2 separate regions of the Homo sapiens genome follow, and region 2 is linked to region 1. Evidence: fine-mapped expression QTL. Tissue or cell type: whole blood. Region 1 holds a variant in brackets; the other region holds the start of a gene. All regions are shown on one strand. Distances are from middle to middle.

Region 1 (2,500 bases):
GCTTGGAATCTAGTATAACTGGGAAGGAGTGCAAGCAACTACAGATGGATAATACCTCTTGGTATATATACTTAACATATCAGTATACTCATCAGTAACATTTATTAACCCATTCCCCTCTTTCTTCACCTAAAGTTAATTACGACAAGAGTAAAATTAGCTAATAATTATTCATTCAAATCAGCAAAATATCAATAGTGTTTTTAAAAGTTCATCTATCATTTAGTTCTCAGATTCCTAATACGTATTATTTAAAACATTAAGAATATCATCTGTAACTATGCCATGTTCCCCGAAATGTACACTGCAGTTGCAAAGAATGCACATGTAAAGCTGTTTACCCTTCGGCAGGGTCCAACGCGAGAGCTCTGGGACTATCTAGGTCTTTCCACACCAAAACTTGTCGGTGCTGCCCATCCAACTTTGACACCTCAATTCGATTCGTTCCTGTGTCTGCCCAGTACAAGTTCTTCCCAAGCCAGTCTACTGCCATGCCTTCTGGATAATCTAAGCCGAATTCTACCACATGTTCCAGTGCACTGCCATTCATAAAGGCTCTGCTGATGGTCTGCAAAAGAACATTAACAACTAAGTCATATGGCATAAGTCTAAACCCTATCCAGAAAGAAGGTTTGGTTTGGTTTTTGTCAGGGGCAAGAGGATCCAGAAGTGCCAAGAGGCATACTATTTCCTATTAAAATTCACATAACTTGCAAGCACAGAAAAATTTGATGTCAATCTCTAATAAATGCAACTTCAAGTTTTACTGCCAATTCAGGGGAGAAATTTTAAAACTCTAATGCACCAAAAATTTATTCTACTAACAGCAGAATGACTTTACTTTTAAAATTTATCAGTAATCAAGTGGAAAAGCTGTGACCACAATGCTACAGATCTTAATTAGTGGTCAATTTTCTAAAGGTGCTTAAGATTATGGCAAGT[C/T]ATCATGCCTACCATATAAATGAATGTAACCATTATACTACCATTATAGCACTGAGTCCCATAACACTTTTAAAAATCATAATTCAAACTAATAATAGATACATCTTATCAAGTATTATCCTAAGTACGTTTTGTCCGTAGATTTTGTCACTTAATACAACAGTCCTGCAAGTATGGCATCACCCCTATTTTATGTTTTTGAGACAGAGTCTCACTCTGTCACCCAGGCTGGAGTGCAGTGGCATGATCTCGGCTCACTGCAACTTCTGCCTCCCAGGTTCAAGTGATTCTCGTGCCTCAGTTTCCCGAGTAGCTGGGATTACAGGTATGCGCCACCATGACCAGCTAATTTTTGTATTTTTAGTAGAGACGGGGTTTTGTCATGTTGGCCAGGCTGTTCTCAAACTCGTGACCTCAGGTGATCCATGTGCCTCAGCCTCCCAAAGTGCTGGGATTTACAGGCCTGAGTCACCGCACCCAGCCACCCCCCATTTTCAAGATGAGGAAATTTAGAACATCACCCAATGCAAACCAAAATTTATTTATTTCATTTATTCACTTAATAAATTTAACTGAACACCATTAGAATCCAACTCTGACTCCAACACCCCATGTTTTCGCATATTACAAAAAAGTTTACATGAGTTATCTGAAACAAGCCCAAAACAATCTGGAAGAAGAAAAGATTATTCTTCAGATTTATAGGTTGGGAGCTTCCTCTCTGGCTATCCTGGTATTCTTTTCAGTAACTATTCTAGGAAGAAGAAAATAAAGAATAACTCATTGTTGGCCTTTTCCGCCTCAGTCAGGCCCTAAAATTTTGTTTAAAGTAAATCACGAATTTTTTTTTAAAGTAAATCAACAGCCATTTTACGTGAAGCACACATTTCCTTACTCAGCTAATTGCAGAAAATGTCATTCATCATTTTCAAATGGAAGAAAGTAGAGGAAGACTATGGCTTGCAGATTTAAAACACTCTGGCAAAGTATCTGTATTAAAAAGCATCTAATAAAATACTGAATGGGCCTTTCCCTTCACTTAAAAACTTAAGGGTTTTGGCTGGGCGCGGTGGCTCACGCCTGTAATCCCAGCACTTTGGGAGGACGAAGCGGGCGGATCACGAGGTCAAGAGTTCGAGCGGCCTGGCCAACATGGTGAAACCCCGTCACTACTAAAAATACAAAAATTAGCTGGGCGTCGTGGCACGCACCTGTAGTCCTAGCTGCTCGGGAGGCTGAAGCAGGAGAATCGCTTGAACCTGGGAGGCAGGGGTTGCAGTGAGCCGAGACTGCACCACTGCACTCCAGCCTGGGTGACAGAGCAAGACACCGTTTAAAAAAAAAAAAAAAAACTTGAGGGTTTTTGTTGAACTCTGCCTGTCAAACAATGAGGGAGGTGGGTCACAGCATGAAGATTCAGAAATTCTAGAAGTTCTCCCTTTTAGTCCCTAGCTTTAATATTCCAATTCTTTTGCTAACCTTGAGTGATATATCAGTCCAATAAATTCGGTTGTCTGTCACATCAAAATCCAAAGCAGAAGCTTCTTTGACACCAGTG
Region 2 (2,739 bases), 100 kb after region 1:
ATATACACAGTACACGCAAAAATATACACCTGTCACAGACTATTAGTTACTATTAGTGTTCTGTAAACTTAAATTAGTTTGGAGAACTTAACAAAAGTTTAGCTTGTTAACACCTAAAAATCTCCAGCGACCAGCGGTCACATGCCTGAAAAGAACTTACTATGAACGCCAGTAAGAACTTTACCAAACCAAAACTACAAGCCACCGTATCGAGCAGTACTTAAATTCCTCTGCTGGTAAATGCTCCACAGCCATCACAGCCATCTCAAGTTCAACACTAAATAGTTTGAGAAGAGCTGCCGACGGGCCAGTCAAAAATCTTTGTGAACTGTCACAAAAGTCACAGAGCATGTGTCAGCTTTGCAGTCCAATTCAAAACATCATAGTGCCATCGAATTCAAGCGATTCCCAGAGCAAATTATCTCGAACAGCCTATGCAATTTACCAAAGTGCCAAGCAGTCCCCAGGGGTGCAGAGCAAATTATCATTTTGGTCCCAGGACCGGCTCCTCTTCACACGAGGATGAATTTCCCTACTTAGTGCCAACTGTACACTTGCATACTCCGAAAATAGGGGCAAGCCGTGAATACCAGAGGTTACAAGGGCAATGTTTTATTTTATTATGGGCTGAAGCTCAGAAGGCTCCCAATGCTGAAACGCTCGACCTATAACCCCGGAGTCACTTTCCAACTGCGCTCTCACCCAGGGTCATTATATCCCAAACGGAAGCCAATCATTACCTGTAACAAGGCCTGGAAAAAATAGCAAGAGGGCTTTAAAAGTTCACCTAAGAAACACCGAAACGGGGTGGGGAGTGGGTGGCGGGGCTTCGATGGATAAGGCCAACCTTAAAGCATCTCGGACTCAAACATTTTAAAAGCCAAAATACGTACAAAGACCCTTTTCCCTGGAAGACCCCAGGCAGAGAGAGGCACACAGACACTCAGTCATCCCGACAGCATGGGGTGCCAAGGGTTCCCTAAGACCAGCAGCCGGGATCGAAGCTCCGATGTGTCCGGGGAAGGTCTGGGAAGCCAGGCCAGGTCCGCATTGTGGCCGGGCGGTGCACGCAGCCCCTGCTCCCGGGCCCCTTTCTCTCCCCCTCCCCACGACCAGGCCTCTCCCCGCTCCTCTCCCCTTCTCCCTTCCTCCGTCCCTCCCCTCCCCCTAGACACATACAACAAGGCCACCTCCCCCCGAACCCCACCAACTTTCCAGTGCCCCCACTCTTCCCACCTCTCAGGAGCACACAGAAGCTGCAGGCCAGGAGGCTCCTCAGGACGGCCCCCATCTTCCCTTCTCGCGTTCTCTTCTCTCACCGGCGAGGGGTGGCCAGAAGTGGGGGAGGCGAGGAGCCGGGGCGGCCGCCGCAGCGGCAGGGCTGCACGCTCATACTTCCCAGCTTCCCAGCGAGAGAAGAAAGAAAGGGGCACGTCAAGGTTCCGCGCGCGCCGCCGCCGCCCTCTCTACCGCGCCGCTCGGCCCCGGGCTCGCGCGACGCCAGCGTCTGCTTCCATCCCGCCGCCTCCTCCCCCGGCGCCCCGCTTCCCCCGCGCAGCTCCTCATTCAGCCTCTGCCTCGCGCAGCGGCGCAGGGATACGGTCGGCACCGCCTCCTAGGGTCGCCGCGACCGTGTCCCTGCGCGCAACGAGCCCCTTCTCCCGGTACTGCCTCCTGTACGGCCAGGGAAGGGAGTCGGCAACCGCACGCACAGCCTCTGCCTGAGACCCTGGGAGAGGTTCTGGGCTAGCAGAGGCGAACTGGGAGGGAAAGCCTCCTCCCGGTGGCGCATTCCAGCGGGATTCTTTCCCGGACCGGCCGCTTCGGCCCTCCCCGCGGAGGGCGTGAGGCGGCGTTGAACAACATTGGAGCCGGCGTGGTCGGGACTACTTTCTGCGGCTCGGCCGGGCAGCCGTCTGCCCCGCTCTTTGTGCGGCCGCCGCCGGCAGGGCCAGGTGGGGCTCCGGTCTCGCGCCCCCAGCCACCTGAGACTGCCCAGCCGCGGTGCACGCGCGGGGAGCCACGGCGGATCCCGTTGCGGGGTGATGAGCTCCGTCTTCGGGGTTGGAAATCGGTTTCAGCATCCTTTTTTTGGGAGGGCGGAATTTTTGAACGCTGTTTACACCGGCTTTCAGCGTGGATCTGGTGAACGATATTAAAACGCCAATTCAAAACTGAGATTGTCATTTTTCTCCCGCCTTCCCAGAAATACAAACTGCCCCCAGAATTAAGCCCGACCAGCTAAAGATTTCTAAACTGGCAGATAAAATTCCAAGATAAATGCCTCAAAACCTAAGAGCAAAGGGACAATTGGACAAGACTATTTAGGATTTTACAAGTTGCATATAATAACGAATGTTTGGCATGCTTCGATTATCAATTCTCAGCTTGAGAAGGAAAAGATTCCCTAGAATCTCAGACTGTGCACAGCCTCTGCTACTCCCAGTGCATTGGGCATTCAGGAGTAATGGCCCAGACGCCCCCTGAAATCACCTGCCAGGCTTTCGTCTGGGCAGAGGCGCTCCAACAGTTAACCCTAATGGAGCCATCAGATGCATCCTGCCCAGCTGTCACACGCCCTTACCTGGAGGCAGATGGGCAAGAAAGTGGAGCTGCTACCACAATGTTAACAAGTACCTCAGTGACATTGGAGTTCACTAGTGCTTGAACACAAGTTATCATATTTGACACTCAAAACTACCCTGGGGAAAGGCAGGTTTTGTTACTTATTCTTTATTG

Evidence for each region. PIP is the estimated chance that this variant, and not a neighbour inherited with it, causes the effect.
Region 2: it holds the start of LRP6, and the variant in region 1 is fine-mapped to the expression of LRP6 in whole blood (INTERVAL, PIP above 0.99).

Annotation. Positions count from the first base shown.
Region 1 is chr12:12,161,852-12,164,351 of GRCh38, forward strand. LRP6 (LDL receptor related protein 6) reads right to left here. Exons shown (of 23, transcript NM_002336.3): 9 at 2,422-2,500; 10 at 342-568. Among named protein-coding and RNA genes, the nearest start is that of MIR1244-4, 51 kb to the left of the region's middle. The variant C/T (reference allele first, on the strand shown) is at 943.
Region 2 is chr12:12,265,445-12,268,183 of GRCh38, forward strand. It overlaps LRP6 (LDL receptor related protein 6), which reads right to left and starts at 1,600. Exons shown (of 23, transcript NM_002336.3): 1 at 1,237-1,600. The coding sequence starts at 1,291. RefSeq lists a silencer at 1,291-1,600 and enhancers at 1,607-2,243, 1,781-1,830.